Regions from separate parts of the Homo sapiens genome. Here region 1 is linked to region 2. Evidence: fine-mapped expression QTL. A gene starts in region 2. The other region holds a variant in brackets. All regions are shown on one strand. Distances are between the middles of the regions.

Region 1 (11,931 bases), 270 kb after region 2:
TCATTTTATATAGTACCTATCGAATAGAGATTAGGAGCTTTTCTATTACATAACTGTGTTTAGGACTAGCTATGTAAGTAGAGGATCTCAGAGAGCAGCTGGGGGTCAGAATTAGGGTCCTATGCAGCCATTGCTTACGGTCTGATACAGACTAAATAAATCTGAAAGGCTCCATGGTCAAATTAATTATAAATACCCCAAATTAAATAGTATTGACTTCACCTAGGATTTCTCCAGCTAGTTTGATCACGGAACTCTTATATCCCCATGATGACATCCATGTGGTAAAAACTACTAACGTCCACAGAACTAGTGTTCCGTAAAACAAATACACCGGGAAACACAGATTAAAATTTTCAAAAATTGGTTAGCCACAGGTAAACACATGTATTCAGGCTTTCAGTTGTCCAGATGATTAAATACACTAATTTGTATTTAATTTGAGATGAAAGAGGTTTTACTGTTCATTCTCCAAATTTTCTTTTGGCAAACAATCTAGGAATAAGGTACTTTGAAAACTTTAACGCTAACCTATAAAACGGAATCCCTAAAAGCAAAGCTGGGGTTGAGCTCTGATGTGGGGTGTTAAAGCAGAGGTAACACTTGACACTCTTCTGTTTCCAATCAGGCAGCGGTGAAGGCTGTGGTGGCCTCTTCGCGCCTGGGAAGTGCCAGCAGCAGCCATGGCAGCATCCAGGAGAGCCACAAGGCTAGCCGAGACCCTTCTCCAATCCAAGATGGCAACGAGGACATGAAAGCTATTCCAGAAGGAGAGAAAATTCAAGGCGATGGGGCCCAAGCCGCAGTTAAGGGGGCACAGGCTGAGCTGATGAAGGTGCAAGCCTTAGAGAAAGTTAAAGGTGCAGATATAAATGCTGAAGAGGCCCCCAAAATGGTGCCCAAGGCAGTGGAGGATGGGATAAAGGTGGCTGACCTGGAACTAGAGGAGGGCCTAGCAGAGGAGAAGCTGAAGACTGTGGAGGAGGCAGCAGCTCCCAGAGAAGGGCAAGGAAGCTCTGCTGTGGGTTTTGAAGTTCCACAGCAAGATGTGATCCTGCCAGAGTACTAAACAGCTTCCTTCAGATCTGGAAGCCAAACACCGGCATTTTATGTACTTTGTCCTTCAGCAAGAAAGGTGTGGAAGCATGATATGTACTATAGTGATTCTGTTTTTGAGGTGCAAAAAACATACATATATACCAGTTGGTAATTCTAACTTCAATGCATGTGACTGCTTTATGAAAATAATAGTGTCTTCTATGGCATGTAATGGATACCTAATACCGATGAGTTAAATCTTGCAAGTTAACACAACGTAACACTTAAAAGCATACATTTTCAGCAACCAGTGGCACATATTTGAAGTGAATAGTAGCAAATTGTTTTTGCTTTGAAAATCTAGCCATCCTACATCCTTTGGATTTCTTCACAAGGCAGTAATTCCTTTGAACTACTGCTTAGCTAATACTAGGTAGTGCTAAAAGACATGTTCCCATAACTTTTACAACATTTTACTTTTTATCATTGATGTGTTCAAACTGTTTACAAGGAGATGCTTATAGATGATAGTTGTACATATGTGCAAAAAAAAATCCACTTGCAATGGTAAGAAATTGAAGTATCCTTAAAGGCCATGAAGCCATATGTCCCTAAAGCCTGTGTGGAGAATGCTTTATTTTATTCTTATTTATATACACTATATTAATAATAACCAAAATGTTCTAAGATTCTGCCATTTTACAACCCTGGAGGAAGTAATTTACAAACTCACGCTGAGTTCCATTCTTTCCTTCACCTGCTCTCCAATAAGATGACTTTCTGATAGACAAAGCTTAGGGTGTAATAAACAGGGAAGAAAAGAAGGTAAGACTGTACTTAAACTGATGAAGATAAGATTGATTCCTTTTCATTTTCCAGATAAAATTGTATTTACTCATGAATTTATACAACTTTACAGATAAGAACATTTTAATGGATAAACTCTATAATTACCAAGTTGCAAATATTTAGAAAATTCTATTTCACAGGTTAGTGCCAAAATGTCTTCATAGAGTAGGAATAATATTCCATTTTAAGATTATTCATTATTGACTTTAATAGAGTAAGAAAACATTATTGTTTATCAAAGCTCTTTTTTTATCCAATTGATGGTTATCTACACATATCACTTATAAACTAAAGTTATTTATGAAAAGCTAGTATGTCTTTTTCTCGTATTTGGAATGAAAGTACCCACATTTTACAATGTAGTGTTGAGAATGTGGCTGCCAATAAATTTAGCACAATGCAATTTATTTACCTTAAAAAACAAACAAAAACAAAAATAAAGAAAAATACTGATTTCAAATCAGACTCTTAAAAAGCTGGAACATTAGACCTGATATTTTATTATGATTTTTCCCAGAATAAGTTTAATTTCTCTTTGACTTTCATAGAAACACTTTCCCCTTATAGAAATTGCACTATCTCCAATTTATTTCTAGTTTGAGTTGAAATGAATATTTTATCAGATTAATTATGTGTCACATTTTTGGTGGGTTTTCTCAATTTTAAAAAAGAATTCATTTTAAAAAATAATTATTTTCAGAGACCAAATAAAGACAATAAAAATGACTATCACATAAAAATCCTTGTTAAAAAAGAGATCTTAAATTATGTTGGCTCTCCCTCAAAACTATTAAATTAGAAAACGAAACTAAAGCTCCAGTTTGTAGAGGCTGTTGGACCTCAGTAGACATTCTTCTTTTCAATCACAAATCTCTCTCTACTACTGTTCTCATGGGAAGAAAACAAGGTAGGACTTCTTATCTTTCATAGTTTAAGAATCTGACAGGTCACTGATATGGAGCCCCTGAAGAAGCACATCATCTGGGCTCAGAAGATTATTTTTTGTTTTGTTTTATTTGTACTATCTAGTAGAGAGCACTTTTCTTATTCCCTCTTTCCTTCCTTCCTCATTTAATTATTCCCTCTCAGAATTCCCATGTTGTCCATTATAAGGGGCTCGCTATTTTTAACCTTTAAGAATGTCTTCTTTGTTAAGCATTAAGATTTCCATTTAAGAGGATCAATTTCCTGTTGTACTTTTTACCATGAGACTGAAACACACACACACACACACACACACACACACACACACACACACGTGTTGGAAGAGCAAAGAGAGGGAAGGGGGTCTTTTTAGAAAGTGGCACTTGGCGCTTAGCTGAAAGATCAGAACACATCATTCCTCCCTGCCCACCCCCATATTGTTCCAAGGGCAGTTGTTACATTATTTCAACACTAGAGTAGGGCGGACTGCATTGTTTGGCCCTGAGAACTATAGAAACAACGTTGCAAATACCATGCCCAATGTGTATTTTAGAATTTACTCATTTAAATGAGTGCATATTACCATTCCTCCATGTGAGTACTCGAGTTGATAATTCCCTCTATCTTTTTAAACCCATAAACTACATTTTTAAAAAAATCAATGGGAGTTTTAAATTTTGACTCATGTTAAAGATAAGATTCTGATAATGACTATATAGTGACTAATTTCATTGTTTCAGTAGGAAACAAATCAAACTTTCAAAAATGTTGGTCATTTCAGTCAAATTATTCAAAGATTTCATATACATACATCCTAAGTTAGGATAATTATGTTAACATTTTTGAAAGAACAGCCAATGTTTATATTGCTTGTTAAAATGGAATGTATTGTCTATCTCAAAGATTACTTAGCTAAATAATAGTAGACAAATGGAGATTTAATTTCACAAAATACTTCATAACATCACTCCTAATTGGCAATATAGTCACAAAGCAAAAGAATTCAAATTTCAGCAAACAATAAATTACATTTTACATTTTAGAGCTAACACTTATCACATTACATTATGGGTTTTTATTTTGAGATAAGTTCAGCTACATAGCATAAACTAGGTTTTTTTTTATAACCATGAAGGACAGTCTTGAATTATTTCCCCCATTAACAAAGTCTAATTGGAATCCAGTATTTTTTCTCAAACTGTAATTTCACTTGTCCCAGGACACATAAATAGGTAAAAATTAGAATAATATCGTGGTAGAAGTTAATTGTCCAGAACAAGTGCATTATATAAATATAATGCAAGCACATGTCATTTAAGATTTTCTATTAGTCACATTTTAAGAAAAATAGATGAAAGTATAGTATTTTTAATCCAATTCATCCAAATTATTCTATCGATATATAGTCAATATTAAAATTTAATGTGATATTTTGAATTCTTTATTTTTATACTGTTTTCAAAATCAAGAGTGTATGTTAGGCCTTTGGGACATCAAGTGCTCAATAGTCACATGTGGCTAGTGGCTACCATATTAGACAGCACTAGTCTAGAGTACTTTTTATTTTAAGCAAAGTGACACTTGAAGTTCTATGCTTAGATTTAAGTGGCCTCAGTTTTCACATTGAGGAGCTGGTGGGAGGCCACAAAGAAAGTGTTTCAGAAATGTTACACACTGAGTAAAAGCTTATTGACCACTCCTGCCCATTCATTTACTTCAGAGGAGAAATGATTCCTAACATGACTTCAAAGAACGGGCATTACTAAATTATCTACTGACCAATCCCTCTGATTCCTGATGGGCCCTGGAGTCTTGACTACAGCCTAGAGTCTCCTGAGTACTGCCATGATGCCAATAGCATTCTTGCTTACCAAAATCTACTCTCAGCCAACTATGTGTCTTCATTCAGGAAGAACTGCACATAGAATCTGATTTTGAGGCCTGGATTAAGCTTCATGCCATCCTTGTATCACAGGCAATATGTCTTTCTGGAAATCTAATGAACCATACCAAATCTGCATGATGAAGATTGTGTAATGATGGTGATATCATGCCAGTTATCCTCAAAGTGGGAATATGACCATTAGCTGGCATTTTTTAAGATTTCCTTAGAAGGGTTTAATCAACACTGCCATTACACATGGATTTAACAAAAGACTTTTGAAAATTTTTTACATACTGATTTTAGAATAATCCTCAAGGTTCTATAGTCATTTTTAGTGGAAGACTTAAAAAGAAAGGAACAATTTTTACTGTGACTTCAATTTCATAGTATTTTAAACATATTTTGTAATTCAGAATGTTTAGCAATCCCTATGTCCTGTTTCACATGCATGGTAACTGATGGTGGGTTGCCTACAGGCTGAAGATTTGGAGAGAGCCATTTTGTTTCATAAATCAGTTTTTATTGCACAGAAGCAGCTGGTTGTATTTCAAGTTGGAAAAAGAAAAGTAAATGCCAGAAAAGGCAAAGGATAAACTTAGTAAGCCATTTATTTTGTTTTAGAATTGTTTTTGCAAAGCAAATTTTTTTAAAAAAAGGTCAACAAAGTGAATCAGCACTAGCATTTTCTTGATGGTTGACTCAATGTATAATTAACAAATATACATAGCAGAGTCAATTAATCATAGTGCCATTATGTCACTTATTTGTCATTGCAAAGTATTCAGTCATGTTGTCTAGATTTACTTTAGATGGTGCAAAATTTCCAGATAGTAACCTATGTAAAAGGATTTGTAATTTCCTTGTAATTCCTGCCTATTAGTCCATATTCTGATTTCCTTATGTTCATCACTGATATGTTCCTGATCAGGGTCATTGCTAGTAGTTGAGCATTTACTGGTTGAACATTGTTTAATGGTTAGATGTTATGTGTGTCTGCATTTAAAAAAATTGTGTACATGTTATTTCACTATTGGTATTACAATATTCATAACCACATGATAAACAGAAATGTACCCAATAATTTCCTATAAAATTTTTCAAAGTCCTTTTATTCCCCTGACACACTCAGGGTGAATTTTTGTCTCCTTGGCAAATAAGAAAAAAAAGGAGAGAGACCACTGGAGAGATATCAGCAAACCACCCACAGTAACCAAGTTCAGTATTTCCTCTTTCTATATTTTGACCAATATATTAAGAGCAAATTTTGTCATTATTACTCCTTGTGGCTATTACCTGAGATCAGATAATATAATCTCAGCTCATAAAGCTTGGCCATGTCTATACTTATCTTGGAGAGCAATAACAAACTTGATTAATTTGTTTGGTTATTTAAAATTCCAACTTTCATAAATGCTCTGTGATGTACTCAAGACGATTGGGTTGTGTGATACTAACTTCCTTCAAGAACTCAGTCTGTTCCCTGTTGTCTGGTTCAGAGGTCCACCAGGGCAAAA[TAGA/T]AGCCTTGCCGAGAAAGTGAACTGTCTTACTCCTTCAAAGGAATCAGATGTTGCTCTAGAGAAGACTCCAGGCATCTACCTGGTTGAGCTCAAATGAGGCAAGTGGGAGAAAACCTCTTCTCATCCTCTGATTGAAAGTGATACAATTTGAATATTGGTATATTGTCATTGGTCAGTAATGGAAAAATGAGATTCCACCAGTGGGTTACTCTTTTCTTGTCTTGGTTTGCTATGCCTTATCCCAGATCAGTGTTTTGTTCCATCCCTATGGTCATCTCTAAAGCCCTGACAGGAGCATCCCAGACTGGAGAAATGCAGCGTATCTGTGGCCCAGAATTTTGTTTGATACTCTAAACAGCAATGCAAAGACTGCAAAATCACACTATTCTAAACAGTTGTTTTCAGCTCATTTTGAAGATTGACCTGGAAAACATATAGATACAGAATATATACATTTAATCGTTGCTTGTGATTCATTGTGTCAAAATAACATTTAATTTTCACTCTGATTAATCTTTATTTTCCATTTAAAAGATTATTTCAGGCTACTTAAATACAAGACCTTGCATTCTAATTTTTGAAAGCGGTTGTTTTCCCTGAGCTCTCTCTCAACTTTGACAGTTTGTGAATGATAAAAAGTTACTAGGTTTGTCCTTTCCTTGATAGATGTAGAGCAGTTCATCTGTTTTGTAAAGGTACAGTTAAGCATAACTATAGGCTGGGCGTGATAGTTCATGCCTGTAATCCCAACACTTTGGGAGGCCGAGGTTGGCAGATCACCTGAGGTCAGGAGTTTGAGACCAGCCTGGCCAACGTGGTGAAACCCCTAATACAAAAATTAGCTGGGCATGGTGGCACGCTCCTGTAATCTCAGCTACTCAGGAGGCTGAGGCAGGAGAATCTCTTGAACCCGGGAGGCAGAGGTTGCAGTGAGCCAAGATCATGCCACTGCACTCCAGCCTGGACAACAAGAGCGAAACTCCGTCAAAAAAAAATATATATATATGACCATAAATTGAAAACTATCATCTCATACTGCCTCCTTTTAACCTGACCTATTTTATATACCTACAATACAGTTAATATGCAGCAGCGTAGAGAACAAATAGCATATTCATAATTTGTAATTTTGTTTTTCTTTTTACGGCACCCTTAAGTCTCAGTAATATTTTAAAAGTCCTCTATAAGCCAAAAGAACGTTGTAACATATCCATTTATTAAGGAGTTAGGCCTAAACATAGTAATAGTAGTCCATTCCATGTCCAACAGATGTTGCTGTGTTTCTTTCAACATTTTTCAATGTCTTGTGAGTTTAGTGAGTGGGTACAGCTGAGTTGGGGTTTAGGTGATTTCTTATGCCCAATGAACTAAAGGTATCAGTAAAAGATTATTAGTAAACAAATTAGTTATTTATGCTCTTACTTGAATGTCAGTCATTCATTTTATCTCTCGTCTTTGAGATACACACATTAAAACTTATGTGCATATTTTTTTAAAGAGTAATTTCCACATAATTCCCCAAGAACTGAACTCAAATCTCCAAAAATTTTTCAGAACTCAAGCAACCAATGATTCACAGAGCAAATCTACCAAAGCCCCATTTTTATTGGAACACAGGCATGCTCATTTATGTACATATTGTTTGTGGCTGCTTTTATGTTGTCAAGGCAGAGTTGAGTACTTTCAACAGAGACCATATGGACTGCAAAGCCTAAAATGTGTATCTGGACCCTTACAGTAAAACAATGACCCTGGGTTTTCATGGCACCCCAATGCCTTTTTGGTGACTTGCAGGAATACAGATTCCTATATTCCAGTTTGTTTTTTTTTTTTTCTCCTTAGCTTAAGGTTCGTATTCCCATTTGCTTCTGAGAAAGTTAGGAAAATTTTGTTTTATGTTGCAGATGCTCTCACAACAATAATTGTGCTGGAGATAGATACAACTTAGTGAAATTTTCCTACAGAACTAAAAACGCAAAATTGCATCACTCCTGAAGAAAAGAAATTTAGAGTATGAATTGAGTTGGTTGAGAGTAGAATTAAAAAGATTTCTAGCACTTTGAGCATGTTTTAGAAATTTGATCCTTACATTTAAAATTATGTAAATGACATCTTTCACTGGCATTTGCTCACATTTAAGTCAATCTACAGCTGTTACTTACTAAGCTAAGAAATAAGAAGATCCCTATGGTTCTGAATCTCTCATAATATTCTGAAGTAATTTATATCAATTGAATTTTCATTAATCATTTTAGGAAATATTATGTTTTATTTTGTGGCATTATATGACAATGACTTTCTCAACAATAGCTCAGGGAATACGCAAACAGCCAGCTCTTTTATGTAAGAAAGCCATTTTCTAATCCCCACGCTTTCCTGAGTGTTACGTATTTTATTTCTTTGAAAAGAGAGGGCCTTGAGTAAATGCTTTCGTTTGCTTTCCTTACATATTTAGAAATCCAAGAAGGGCCCTTGTCTTAGTCTATTTCTGTCACAGAGAAATTGTTCATTCCAAAATATCCACCTTAAGGGAAGCTAGTGACCGAGATATGGAGAAAAACATAGGCATTCATGACCTTTGTGTTTCCGTTTGACTTTCAACATCTGTAACCAAAAGGTCACAAATGAAATATTTAGTAGAAAGTGCAATATCAATTTATTAGGAGTACCTAAAATTATAACTCTAAATAATATACAGCAATATTATTGCTCTATTATTACAGCAATCAATAATATAATATAGCCACTAGGATACACTCGCTGTAGAACTCAGAACAAAAGATATCAATCTTCTGCCAGTCCGCATCATTATGTGTAGCAGAGACTTTACTGGAATGAGTGAGGGGAAAGATAACAAAATGTAGATTAGGATTCCACATTCTCCCCTGCCCATCTTCTTGATTGCTCAGTTTGAAGACGATCATTGATGGACAAATACTTTAGAAATGAATGAAGTCAATAGCTAATGTTTCTCCCAGAAACTAAACAACATAGTTTAGGGGATATTAGGCCTACATTCTAATCACATTGTAAGGAAGTGATTTTCTAATTTTGAAGCTTCCCAGGAGCAGCCCCCTCCAGGAACAATTTTCCCTGTGAACTTTCACTGAGAAACTATTATATGCCATGGAGGAGTCAAAGATGAATTAAATCCAATGCTATCCTCCAGGAGTGAGCTTTGTAGTTGGAGAGAAAAGCCAACCTTATAGATACAACCTGTACATATATAACCTATGCTGCATTTAGGCAGATGATAAGCCCTAGGAATGGAAAGAGGGAAAAGCTCCCTTTTGCCAGGAATGATGAAGGAAAGCTTTATGGAAACACAGGCTGTATGTGAAAGATGGGTGAATCTTTGCAGGTAGGGAAGAAGTAGGGGGCATGTCTGGCTGAGAACCGGCCTGATCATAGAGTGGAAAAATGAAAGGCAGAGGTGAAGGAAGAATACTAAATGTGAAAGGCTGAAATACACAGGGAAGTGTTGCCAGTGTGCAACAGAATCTCATCTCGTGCAAAATTGAATTAGACTTCCTTACTCCTTCCTTACTCTGGGTAGGTCCATGTGCAGCCTTTCCTCAGAGCATCTAGCCTGACATACTTGGCTCATCTGCTGTGCTTCTAAGCCAAATAAAAATCATCAAACACATCGAAGATATTTTTGGGAGTCACCAGGTTAAAGCAAAGCCTCAGTCACTGAAAGCAAAAACTGAATTGGCCAGGTCTCCACTGACAAAACAGAGTAAATGATAGTATGACAGATAATTTCAAGTTTTCCAAGACTCCAATTTCTGAAAAATGTCTCATGACTCCAAAAAATCACGTACTTCCTAAAATGTTGCCAGTGGAGGACCGAATCAAGGTTATTGCTGACCTCATTTTTTCAACCTTTTCAGTTATTTGACCTGAATAGGCAATCCCCCAGGATTTCTGATTGAATTCTACCTGAAAGTTTAGATTTTAAAAGACAACCTGTAGGAAGCTAAGTCTCAGGCAACAAAATTTAAAACCATCAGAACTTGTTTCTCCAAACATCAACCTGCTCCTGTCAAGTCCTTTTTCATCTCTCCCTTTTGTCCCTTTACATACTGTTTTGTAAGTTCCTTTTGATATCATTTATTGCAGGCAGTATTTTTACATCCATCTTCAAGAAACTTGGGAGACATTTAGACATTTAGTATGTGTACTTTTAGTTGTCTTGCCTCTTTATTTCAGATAATGCCTGTGATTAGTGAATGGCGGCATTATTCCTGAAGACAAATGAAGGAAGATAGGGAGCAAGATTGACTGTCATTTGAATGATGGAAGAGAAGTAGAATTACTGTGAGGTTACAAAAATCGTAAGTTAGCAGACATTGAGAAAGGAAAACTTCCTACTTGGGCTTTTCAGGCTTATGTGACATTATCTGGATGTGTTTTCTAGTCTTTCCTAAAGGAGAAATTTTTATTCCTGGGTTGCTGAAAGCTTTCTGGACTAAAAGGATATAAGCAGCTCAATAGCAGCATAGAGGATTAGATTAATGGAACAGCACTGCATACAGGAAAGCTACATCTCCAATAGTTTAGGCTGCAAGTCAGTAGCCAAACACAAGAGCATGTAAGATTTGGAGGACAAAGTATAAATATTTTAAGTTTACACAACCAAGATTATAGGCTACCTTCCCAACTTCTAATTTGAAGAGCACTGAAAATGGAGCTGTGAACACTTCATTTTTAAAACCTGACAATATGGTGCTATTGACTACTTAATACAAAGATATATTACAATATTTTTAGGTAAATGTATTAAGTCTGGCCTGGGCATAAATGTACATACAGAAAATGTTTGTAGAGAATTCATCAAAATCATGCCCATTTGCTGTTGTAGAGCTACAGTATTCTTCAATGGTGGTGACTGACCAGTGAGTTTCTACTTCTTACAGATGGGACACAACAGTCATGGGCTGTCTCAGCTGCCCAAAGCCTGAGGCAGACCACATGAGAGCTGTGGCTTCTTCTTGGATTCAGGTTGGATAACCCAATTCAGTAATTAAATATGTAAATTTTGGGGGGGGTTGGGGGGTGTTTTCTAGGAACTTGAAGAGTACGTGACATTATAAAAAATGGGTGTTGGAAGACTAATTGTAGAAATTTGACCTGAGGGCCAATGTTACTTGGTGTAAGTTCACTCAGACAGACATGTCAGAACATGCCCAAAGAAGCCTATATCTTGCTGCTGGGAAATGTAAAGCAGTTGGCATGTAGAATACGATAATAAATCATTTAAGAAACCACCAAAACTTTGCATTCTGTGATTTCAAATGTTACCACAATTCAAGAGAGACACCATGGACATTTTTCTTACACCTGAAATGTGCAGTTGAATCACTCCTTGAGTGTTTTCCCATTCTCTCAGATAAAATTATACTTTGAGTTTCATAGCCTTTTTTTTAACACTGAGTGCTCACATATTTTCTGTTGAGTAAAATTATAAAATCACTAGAGTTAAAAGAGGATATTAGTAATCATTTAATCCAATAAGCTCACTTTATTAAAGAGAGCTATTATGCCCAAGAGAGGTAATGGCTTACCTAAGGTCACAGTGGCTGAAGAAGGAATAGACCAGGGTTGCCCAGCTCCTAGTCCAGTGCTCTCACTACCATTCAGGCTGCTATAATAAAATACCATAAACTGGGTGGCTTATCACAATTTATTTCTGACATTTCTGGCACAAGTCCAAGA
Region 2 (11,784 bases):
TTAAAAAGTATAATTCAGAGTTTTGACAAATGAATAAAATCCTGTAATCACCACCATAACCATGATATAAAACCTTTCCATCACTCCCCAAATCCCTTAGAGTCTTTTGCATTTGATTCCCTCCCACTTTAGCCCTGGAGAACTACTGATCTGCATTCTGTCACTTCAGTTTTGCCTTTCCTTGAATATCATATAGAGGGAATTATTTGTAGTATTTTGTGTTATATATATAACCCTCCTTGGGTTATTTATTTTGTTCAGTGAAAAATCCACCAATAGTTGTATGGCTAGGGGCAAAATAGACATAAACCTATTTCTCAACATTCTGGGAGCGTGTGCCCTCAGGGGTCTCGCTACTTATCGTGCAGAGTTTCACTTAATCTCTCTTTTCAATATGGCCTCAGCTGTATCTTCTGACCTAAAACATATTTCGTTCCTTGTTCAACATTTACAAAATTAAATATATTATCTTCTTCTAGGCTTTGGTAGGAGTGTTTTTTGGCTGTGAATTGTTAGAAGAGGTAATCCAGGAAGCCTAAAAGCTTTAATTTAAAAAAAGAATTTGTTATGAATACATAATATTTGCACTTATTTATGGGATACATGTGATATTTTTATACAAACATACAGTGTGCAGTGATCAAATCAGGGTAACTGGAATATCCATCCCTTCAAGCATTTATCACTTCCTTGTTGTTAGAAACATTCCAATTCCACTCTTAGTTATATTGAAATATGTAATAAGTTACTGTTAACTATAGTTGCCCTATTATGCTACTGAACATTAGATCTTATTCCCTGTATCTAACTGTATTTTTGTGCTCATTAACTATCCCCTATTTATCCCCTCCTTGCTATTACCCTTCCCGTCCTCTGATAGCCATCATTCTACTCTCTATCTCTAAGAGTTCAATATTTTTCTTAGCTTCCACATATGAGTGAGAACATGCAATATTTGTCTTTCTGTGCCTGGCTTATTTCACTTAATGTCCTCCAGTTTCATCTGTGTTGTTGCAAATGACAAGATTTCATTCTTTTTATGGCTGAATAATATTTCCTTGTGTATACATACTACATTTTCTTTATCCATTCATCCACTGATGGATACTCAGGTTGATTCTTTATCATGGCTGCTATAAATATGAGAGTGCAGATGTATCTTTGATATACTGATTTCCTTTCTTTTGGATATATACTTAGCAGTGGGATTGTGGACCACATGTTAGTTCTATTTTTAATTTATTTATTGTTTTGAGGAACCTCCATTCTGTTCTTCACAGTGACTGTACTAATTTATATTCCCACCAACAGTGTACGAGGGTTCCCTTTTCTCCACATTCTCACCAACATTCATTATTGCCTGTCTTTCTGATAAAAGTCATTTATTAGAAAGATTGTATCTCATTAGAAGCTTTGGGTCACTGAGCCTGTTTAATGGTAGGTTTCACTCTAAGGTGATTTTCTGATAAAAGTCATTTATCAGAAAGACAGGGGTGAGATATTTCCTTGTTTTGATTTGCATTTCTTTGATGAATAGAAATTTCTTTATATAGTTGTTGGCTATTTGTATGTTTCTTTTGAGAAATGTCTGTTGAGATCTTTTGCCCATTTTTCAATCTGATTTTTTTTCCTGTAGAGTTGTTTGAGTTTCTTATATATTCTGGTTATTAAACCCTTGTCAGATGGATAGTTCGCAAATATTTTCTCCCATTCTGTGGGTTGTCTCTTCAGTTTTTTTGATTGTTTCCTTTGCTGTGTGCAGAAACTTTAGCTCGATGTGATTCAATTTGTCCATTTTGCTTTGGTTGCCTGTTCTTTTGAGACCTTACTCAAGAAATCTTTCCCAGACCTATGAAATGGAGTGTTTCCCCAATATTCTCTTCTAGTAGTTTCATAGTTTCAGGTATTAGATTGAAGTATTTAATCCACTTTGACTTGATTTTTGTATCGTGAGAGAGAGGGTCTAGATTCAGTCTTCTGCAAATGGACATCCAGTTTTCCAAGCACTATTTATTGAAGAGACTGTCCTTTCCCTAATGTATGTTCTGGGTGCCTTTCTCAAAAATGATTTGACTGTAAATGCATGAATTTATTTCTCGGTGCTTTCTTCTGTCCTACTGGCCTATATATTCGTTTTGATGCCAGTATCATGCTCTTTTGGTTACTTTACCTTTGTATTATAATTTGAAACCAGGTAATATGACACCTCCAGCTTCCCCCTGCCCTGGCCTCCCCTCAGGATTGCTTTGTCTATTTGGCTTCTTTTGTGGTTTTACATAAATTTTAGCATTATTTTTCCTATTTCTGTGAAGAATGTCATTGGCATTTTGATAGACATTGCATTGAATGTGTAGATTGCTTCGGGTGGTGTGGGCATTTTAAAAATATTGTTTCTTCCAATCCATAAACATAAAATATCTTTGCATTTTTTTGTGTCCTCTTCCATTTCTTTCATGAATGTTTTACGGTTTTCATTGTAGACATCTTTCACTTCTTTGGTTAAGTTTATCCGTAGATATTTTGTTTTATTTGTAGCTATTGTAAATGGGATTACTTTTTCATTTTCTATTTCAGAAATGCTACTGTTTTCATATGTTGATTTTGTATCCTGCAACTTTACTGGACTGATCAATTCTAATAGTTTTTTTTTTTTTTTTTTTTTTGGTGGAGTCTTTAGGCTTTTTTAAATATAAGATCACATCATCTGCAAGCAAGGACAATTTGACTTCTTCCTTTCTAATTTGGATGAAGGGGCCTAATAACTTTTTATAAAATTTTTTAACCAATGTTTTGTTCTCTGTTCTATGCCTCACCTTGAGAACTATCTGGTACTCTAACTTCTGAACATGTCTTGATTTTATAGTAGGGATTAGATTTCTTCTTATTGGCTTTTCCCATTGCAAATCTAGGTTTCTGATTTATTAACTCCTCTGTTACTGTTTGTTTACGTGTTCAAGATTCAGTTGACATCACTTCTCTCTTTCTTTTTGTGGGATGATAACCCTGTTCCTTTTCTGGTCATTTCAGTTGAGTTTTGATAAGAAGTAATGGTACATTTTGTATATTTAATTCCTGTTTCATCTATTTTAATATTTATTAATTTTTATCTATGTCTCAAATGAAAGTAAGCTGCATGGATTATACAAAATATCCTGTTTTTAAACTTCAATTAATAGCATTTTTACAAAAGTCAATTATGAAAAGCATAGATGTCAAATGACTAAAATTATGCTGAATATAAAATGAATTCTATAATCACCTCTGTACCATGAAATGGCTTTCTTGCACCATTGTTACCTAAAGTAGCAGGAGAAAAAAGGCTTACCATCTCCTTTAATGTAACATGCTTGCTTTGGGCTTATGTTGTAAAAGAATTGCTAAGAACAGACAAGCATTTACATGCAGTGCTGCTGCTGCTGGACTTGCCTCAAAGAAGTGAGAATAAAAATGGCCTAGCAACTATTTCATGCCCATTTGTCCACTGGTCAGTGCAAGCCAAGGGAAACTTACTGAGTCAAAGCTAGAATTTAGAGAGCTTTATTATCTTGCTTTGCTTGTGAACTTGATTTTTCAACACGATTAGTGAATCTATTCTCTGAAAAGTAACATCACGTGGGCATTTTCAGTCTTTCACCAAACAAGCTAGTATGTAAGTGAATTTGTATGAATTTGCATATACTTGTTATTTGTTAGAGCATTTGTACATTGAGTTTGTGCTCATCATTATAAAATTATCATGAGGAATAGTTTTTGTACAGTCATGTGTCACACAACATTTTGGTCAACAATGGGCTGCATGTGTAACGGTGGTCCCACAAGACTAATAGAGTTGAAAAATTTCTGTCACCTAGTGACATCATAGCCTAATCTTACAGTGTAATACATTACTCATGTGTTTATGGTGATGCCACTGTAAACAAACCTACTGTGCTGCCAGTCATATAAAAGTATAGTGTATACAATTATGTATAGTACATTATACTTTATAATGGTAATAAATGACTATGTTACTAGTTTATACTATGTTACCAGTAAATACTAGTATAGTATTTACTACACTATACATTTTATTGTTATTTTAGAGTTTTCTCCTCTAGCTATAAAAAAAGTTAACTGTAAAACAGCTTCAGGCAGGTCCTTCGGGAGGTATTCCAGAATAAGGCATTGTCATCATAGAAGATGACAGCTCCATGCATGTCATTGCCCCTAAAGCCCTTCCAGCTTTCAGTGGGACAAGATGTGGAGGCGGAAGACATGATATCGATGCCTGTCTCTGTGTAGGCCTAGGCTAGTGTGTGTGTATGTTTTAGTTTTTAACAAAGTTCAAAAAGTTAAAAAAGTTGTTTTAAAAAGAAGAAAGCTTATAGAATAAGGATACATAGAAAACATTTTTGTGCAGCTTTACAATATATTTTGTATAAAATACCTTGTATTTGTGTTTCAGCTAAGCATTACTATAAAGGAGTCAAAAAGTTTTAAAACATTAAAAAGTTTATAAAGTAAAAGTTACAGTAAACTAAGGTTAATTTACCATTGAAGAAAGAAACTATTCTAAATAAATTTAGTGTAGCCTAAGCATACAGTATGTATAAAGTCTAAGTAGTGTAATGTCCTAGGCCTTCATATCCACTCACCACTTACTCACTCACACGGAGCAACTTTTAGTCCTGCAAGCTGCATTCATGGTAAGTGCCCTATACAGGTGTACCATTTTTTACCTTTTATACCATATTTTTATTGTACCTTTCCTATGTTTAGATATGTTTAAATACACAAATACTTATTGTTGTGTTACAGTTGCCTACAGCAGAGTTCCCAACCCCCAGGCCATGGGCTGGTCTGTGGCCTGTTAGGAACTGGGCCACACAGCAGGAGGTGAGCTGCAGGCAAGCAAGCAAAGCTTCATCTATATTTACAGGGGCTCTCCATCTCCCACATTACTGCCTGAACTCTGCCTCCTGTCAGATCAGTGGTAGCATTAGATTCCCGTAAGAGCATGAACCCTATTGTGAACTGCACATGCAAGGGATCTAGGTTGTGCACTCCTTATAAGAATCTACTGCCTGATGATCTATCACTGTCTCCCATCACCCCCAGATAGGACCGTCTAGTTGTAGGAAAACAAGCTCAGGTCTTCCACTGATTCTATATTACGGTGAGTTGTATAATTATTTCACTATGTATTGCAATGTAATAATAATAGAATTAAAGTGCACAATAAATGTAATGCACTTGAATCATCCCAGAACCATCTTCCCCACCCCCTGTCTGTGGAAAAAATTATCTTCCAAGAAACTGGTCCCTGGTGCCGAAAAGGTTGGGGACCGCTGGCCTGTAGTATTCAGTATAGTAAAATGCTGTACAGGTTTGAAGCCTAGGAGCAATTGACTATTCCATCCAGCATAGCTGTGTAGTAAGCTATACTATCTGGTTGTGTACAAGTACACCCTATGATGTTCTTACAACTGCATCGCCTAAGGATGCATCTCTTCAACTTCTCACCGTGGTTGAGGGATGCATGACTATATATATTTTCAATTTCCAATCAGCTAGGAATCACATTCCTGTAACTACTTGATTGGATATTTTTGGTTGTTTGTTCACCAGTATAGCAGGCAGGCTTTTAAGAATAATAAATCCATAAATTAGATTAAAATATTGGACCATATTAATGGTTGGTGCTATCAGGAATGGAGACTTACTAGGAAGAGTTTAGCGCATGTTGGAGGAAACTCAGGAAAAAAAAAAGGCCAAAAGTAACACCTGTGAAGTAAGGTGAAAGCGCCTGGAGCTATTTAGCCAGAAATGAGTTGTGGTATAATAACTGTCATAGATATGTATCAGAACATGACTAATTGTTGTTCGTCTTTGCTGAAATCTGAAAAGAAAAAAGTTCAAGGGTAGTTTAAGTGATGTATGTTTAATACTGAGAAGAAGAGCCATGACAGCTGATGGACAGGACATAAGAATGCTTATCATGGGATACATCTCTTGGGAAGAGAAAAAGGGCTTTTACATGTAGCAGTCTTCCCTGTCATGAATGAGGACAGGTCCTGCCTTAAGGCAGAGGGTTTACTAGTTGGCTTCCACAAGGCCCTTCTAGAACTGTAATTCTGAGCCACTTCAGATGCTGAGATTGAACTCGACACAGCCAAGTATCTCCTCTTTTAGGAGCTCCAGCAGTGCCGAGGAGGCAGTGCCACCAGCAGCGACGACAGCATTTATTCCAACTGAAGACTTCACTCAAAGGTGAGTCAGGTCAGTGTGGACCTGGGCGCTTCCTTTTCCTCCAGCTCTCACTGGGTCCAGGCACAGGAGCCCTGAGGGATCGGCGACCACAGTACTCCCTCCCCGGCCACCAATATAAGCTTTGACAGAGGATGGCTGGTTAGCTGGTGTTAGGTGGGAGGGACTCGCCACGGAGACGCGCTCAAGGAGGGATGAGTTGCGCCACCACCACCTAGGTCCCTCTCTCGCTATCCGGCGGGGCCGCCCGGACCCAGGTGCTGCCAGGGTACGCCTGGCGCCCGCCATCCCAGAGCAGCGTCCCGCTGCGCACGGTCTCCCTCCAGCTCCGGTCCCCGCGGGAGGGCGCGTGGGATGATGCGCGGGTCCTTGTGCCTTCCCCAAGCTCCAGCATCCGGAGCCGCCCTAGCCGGCACCGCGGCAGCCACAGCCTGGGAGAGAGAAAGGAAAGAGGGAGGGCGGCGGGAAAGGCTCGGCGCGGGAGGAGGGCGGGTGAGGAGGGAAGGAGCGAGGGGGAGGGAGCCTCTCTCCTCAGCGGTGCAGCTAGTCTCCCTCCAGCGGGCGGCGACTCCGGGTTCCCCCTCGCGCCCTCTCGCAGAGGCTCGCCCCCTTCCCCGCCCACCGTCCCTGCGAGCGCGGGCGGCGGCGGTGGGCGTGTGCGCGCGTGAAGGACGCCGCCTCTCTCTCGCTCCTGCGTTCGCAGGCGGCGGCTGGCGGCCGGCTTCTCGCTCGGGCAGCGGCGGCGGCGGCGGCGGCGGCTTCCGGAGTCCCGCTGCGAAGATGCTCAAAGTCACGGTGCCCTCCTGCTCCGCCTCGTCCTGCTCTTCGGTCACCGCCAGTGCGGCCCCGGGGACCGCGAGCCTCGTCCCGGATTACTGGATCGACGGCTCCAACAGGGATGCGCTGAGCGATTTCTTCGAGGTGGAGTCGGAGCTGGGACGGTAAGGCGCGGGCTCCGGCTGGGGAAGCCCGCGGCGTGCACTGGGGGTTGTCCCTCTCGCAGCGACGGCTCGGAGGGTGCGGGAGCCTGCCTTCGTGCCCTTCGATTTCTCCCTACCTAGTTAGTGTCTTGAGAGAGAGCTAACCTTCATTCAGGTGCGGCTCGAGTCCTTCCCACCCCACCAGAGCGCCTAGGCCGGTGCAGCTGTAGGATCAGCCCGACTCCCTCCCACCTTCCCTCCTTCTCGCAGGCTGCCACTTCCCTTGGGTGACAGCTCCCACCGCACGTGGGCCCTGCTTTCCCAATTGATATCTTTGCTCACGATTATAGCTTGCCAGAGGGTCCTGTTTGTCTAGTTATTGTTTAGGGTGGGGGCCGGAGGGTGCCCCTCCAAATCAAGACAGAATTATTAAGTTAGATTCCTCCTCCTTCCCCTCGTCAAGCTCTCCAAAGCAAGTGACACGAGAAATTAAACTTAAATACTAGCTTCCCTGCAGAGTCTGCTCAGGAGTGAAGGGAGAAATGAATCATTTAAGAGAGTTGAAGGCAGAATAATGAACTAGTGTGGCTTTAAAGAGAAAGCAGCATATGGGATCCAGGCAGTGGTAATTAGTGAGAATGCTGCTGCTTCCCTTCTTTCATGGGCTGGAGTGATTTATTTAAATTATATATGCAACAGACCATCTCCCTAGGATTGCAGATATGTCCCCTATCCCTCCTCTGAAGATCCAAACAGGTAGCAGTTTGGCCTTCTGCATGATTCCATATGCTTTCGTATTTGTATCCATTGAAAATTATAGTTTTCTTTCCCTTACTTCCTTTTTTTTTGTCTTTTCTCTCTGTTATCCATAGGTAAGGAGATTTATTTTCAACACTTATTTTAGATCCAGGCTCTTTAGTATAGGGAATCTGAAGATGTAATTTCAACGGTTGACAAGTTGCAGCTTCTGTACTTACTACTCCTTTGCAATTTCATTTTTCATTCTCTTTTTGCTGGAAATAGTATTGCTAACAGCCTTTTTATTTTTTCAAGTCATTGGAGGATCCAGAGCAGGATTCTGGATGTTGGTATTTAGTGGGAAGATGTAATGATCACTGCCCACTCTCCCCCCACTTTGCTAGTACTATTGAAGGCTCATTGAATATAGATGTGTAAAATAGGCAAACTTCTGAATGAAAATTCAGTGATTTGTCACTGTTAAAAATGTTTTGAAGTATTTGAGCACTGAATAATGTATACATAAACATCCATTTTTGATCAAGTTTTTCAGTATTCATCTGAAGATCTATTATATATATAGGTGGAAATGAAAGGACAATGATGTCGATTTTTGTAAGGTCCAAAACATGCCTGTTATTAATTGTATGATGCGTGACAGTGGAACCATGTAAACCTCTGAGTAAAGGGATGATCTACTTAAAATTGTTTACTGGGTGTTTTATAAACTACTGTGTAGTAGAGGAAGTGCCTGATGCTGCTGCAGGGACTGTCCCAGTAGCACATCTGTTTTCAGAGTAACATTAACCCTAGATGCCTCAAATAGGCTGACTTATCCACACACGTTGTCTTTATGAATAAGCTTCATCGTCATGAAACTCAAGAAATTCACTTTAATTTGAAAAATGGGAAAAAAATAAACTGCCAATTGTATACCCCTATGAGATGGTAGCCTGCATAGGAAAAAACTGAGAAATTTGAAGTTTGGGTTTTTTATTTTTCAGTTCAGAATTACGTGTTGCAGTAAATTTTGGAGGACAAATATTAATCGGTTATACAGAAGCTTCTCAACTTATGATGGTGTTATGTCCCAATAAGCCCACTGTAGTTGAAAATATCAGAAGTTGAAAATGCATTTACTACACCTGTGCTAACAAACGTTGTAGCTTAGCCTAGCCTACCTGAAACATGCTCAGAACACTTAATATTAGCCTACATTTGGGCAAAATCATCTAACATAAAGCCTATTTTATAATAACTGTTAAATACCGTGTACAGATGGGATTTTGTAGACATGGTGAGATATGAAACACAAAACACAATATTCAAAAAACACTGACAACAGAGAACACTCTAGAGTTCCGGTTGTTTACCCTCCTGTGGTTAACTGGGAGCTGTGGCTAATGGCCGGTGCCCAGCATCAGAGAGAGTATCCTACCATGTATAGTTCAGGAAAAGATCAAAATTTGAAGTACGATTTCTACTGAATGCTATCACTTTCCCACCATCATAAAAGTCGAAAAATTGTAAGTTAAGCCCATCCTATTGGAGACCCTCTGTCTATACATTGCTAAGATTCTCGCTCTATTATCTAGTCTTATGATTACTGTAAAAGATCACAGAGTTAAACTACATTGAGGAACAATAAAAGCTAAAATGTCTTACTTAGGCTCTGTTTGTCAGCAGTAAAGCGTATTGTTAGGTAAGTTTTCTGTACATGGCAGCATTCGTGGGGTGCATGCTTACTCTGGCTGAGACTTTGAGAAGTATCATTTTCATTATCAGAAATTTTTAAGTAAATAAACTTAAAACATCAACTACTATTCTAGATATAATTATTAAGAATCGATAGAGCCAGAGAATGCAACAGAATGATGATCGTAGATATTGGCTGAGTGACTAAAATCTTCTTTCTTCCTACACTAGAGATCAAGTTGAACTCAGGTCATCAGTTTCAAGCCTTTACTCTCAGCTTTGGACCAAATCCACCTGCTAGTGTGACTCTAATTCATTAGTAATGCAGTTGTCATTAATATACTAAGAGAACAGTGCTTCTGGTGTTACGTGTTGCTGTTGTGGTTAGCTCTAGAAAGTAGACAGTCTCCACCAGAATTAGTGATTTGTTGGCTCCTCCATTACAGTTGTCTGTTGTAAAGTAGTGACTCCTGATTGCAAGAAGATTGGACGGTGACCACTGGGGCGATACACCCTGAGGATGTGTTTGGGAACTCAAGGGGAGCTAAACTCCCAAGGCTATATCCACCTGAAGCCCCTGGATAGTGCTGGCGAAGGCAGGTGCTGGCAGCACTGATCCACATGGAGCCATTGAGACCAAGACAGATGTGCTCACTTTCTTTTGGCAGGGAGGGCATAGAGTATAGGGGTTACGGGTGAATTAAAAGTATCAGGCAAAGTAATTTTCCTAAAATCACATTTGAAGACACTGTTTTGTTCATAGAGTTTTTCAAAAAGTTTACAAAAATCATGACACACACACATTCAACTCTACTTAAAAATACGAATTGGCCATGATCCTATTCAGGGCTCCAGATCCTCGAGAGCAGTTGGTCTTTTGCCCAGTGATTTGAGAAACTGGCATTTTAAAGGCTTTTCTGAGGGAGAAGGGAGCTGCCTCTGGTCCAGATCCCGCCCAGTGGTTTGGCACATGGAATGACAGGAAATGGCCCAGCCTGCTTGGTGGTGCAGATTTCGTCTGTGCATGCAAACCCATGTCCTGTTTTCAGTTGTCTCACCTTTAGTTTCTCACTGTTGTTCCATGTTGAAAGAAAAGATGATAAGAAAACCAGATGTATTCCCAGACATACAAATCCAAGGAAACCAAACCAAATGAAAGATAATTAGAACAAGAGAAGAATGTGTTAAACTATTTTGGAACCTTTTTTTTCTTTAAATTTAGTTCCCATTCCACTTACTGTAGTTTCTTTAGGCTAGGCACTTTGCATACTCCTCCCCACTGCAATGTAATTTTAAATAATACATTTATGTGTCACATTTATGTAAACACAATTATGTGTATACATTTATAATTTTAAATACATTTATTTGTCAACTCAATTAAACTAATTATATAGGATCCCTTGCTATATGTATTATTGTTTAGGAACCAAATAGATTTCCATAGTAAGGGGTGTGTGTGTGTGTGTGTGTGTGTGTGTGTGTGTGTGTATAAAACAGAAACAATTTCATAAAACAGTGTTTATTCTTATTACCAGCAATGCACTTTAATATTTTCTATTATATGCTGTTTGATTTCATCTATTTTGTTAAAAAAACTTGGCTGAACCCATGTGATTTCACATCCCACTAATGTGTTGTGATTCAGTTTGAAAAGTGCTGTTGTAGGCCATAAATCTGTGTGTGATAGATTAAGCTATGAGGCAGAGTCTTTTAAAGAAATTCCCTGCAGACCAATTGGCAACATTGGGTGGTATCCTTTTGGCACAGCCCTGTAGAGAAAAAGGCTCCTATCTTTGCCTCCAGGTCATTACTGATTTTTCCCCTTCTAAACATTTTGGAAAAACTCTGGTGTCTCCCTAAGGTCTGCTGGGCACACAGTAATTTGAACTGGCTAAGAGTGCCAGGGGCTGTGTTGGGAAGGAACTCAGAGACTGAGAAGTGGTATATTCTACATGGTAACATGTATTCTGGCTCCAGGTCACAGTGAGCAAATGCTTTCTATAAGGAAACACGAAAGCGTGCATTTTCTAAGAGAAGGGCTTCAGCCAATGTTCTTGGCTTGTCTTAGTGCTCTTGGCTCTGGTTGATATAACAAGATGTCTTAGACTGGGTGGCTTAAACAATAAATATGCATTTCTCACAGCTCTGGAGGCTAGGAAGTCCAAGATCAGGGTCCCAGCCA

Alleles and levels. Positions count from the first base shown, and alleles are read on the strand shown. Sizes are in standard deviations (SD) of each study's normalised expression.
As copies of T replace TAGA in region 1, the expression in testis of the gene that starts at base 6,927 in region 2 goes up (small effect, 0.25 SD a copy in GTEx).

What was found. PIP is the estimated chance that this variant, and not a neighbour inherited with it, causes the effect.
Region 1: its variant is fine-mapped to the expression of CAMK4 in testis (GTEx, PIP above 0.99).

What each region holds. Positions count from the first base shown.
Region 1 is chr5:111,483,398-111,495,328 of GRCh38, forward strand. CAMK4 (calcium/calmodulin dependent protein kinase IV) reads left to right here. Exons shown (of 11, transcript NM_001744.6): 11 at 629-11,489. The coding sequence ends at 1,069. Among named protein-coding and RNA genes, the nearest start is that of STARD4-AS1, 23 kb to the right of the region's middle. The variant TAGA/T (reference allele first, on the strand shown) is at 6,211.
Region 2 is chr5:111,217,458-111,229,241 of GRCh38, forward strand. CAMK4 (calcium/calmodulin dependent protein kinase IV) reads left to right here and starts at 6,927. Exons shown (of 11, transcript NM_001744.6): 1 at 6,927-7,187. The coding sequence starts at 7,027. RefSeq lists enhancers at 6,056-6,155, 7,116-7,165 and a silencer at 6,516-7,005.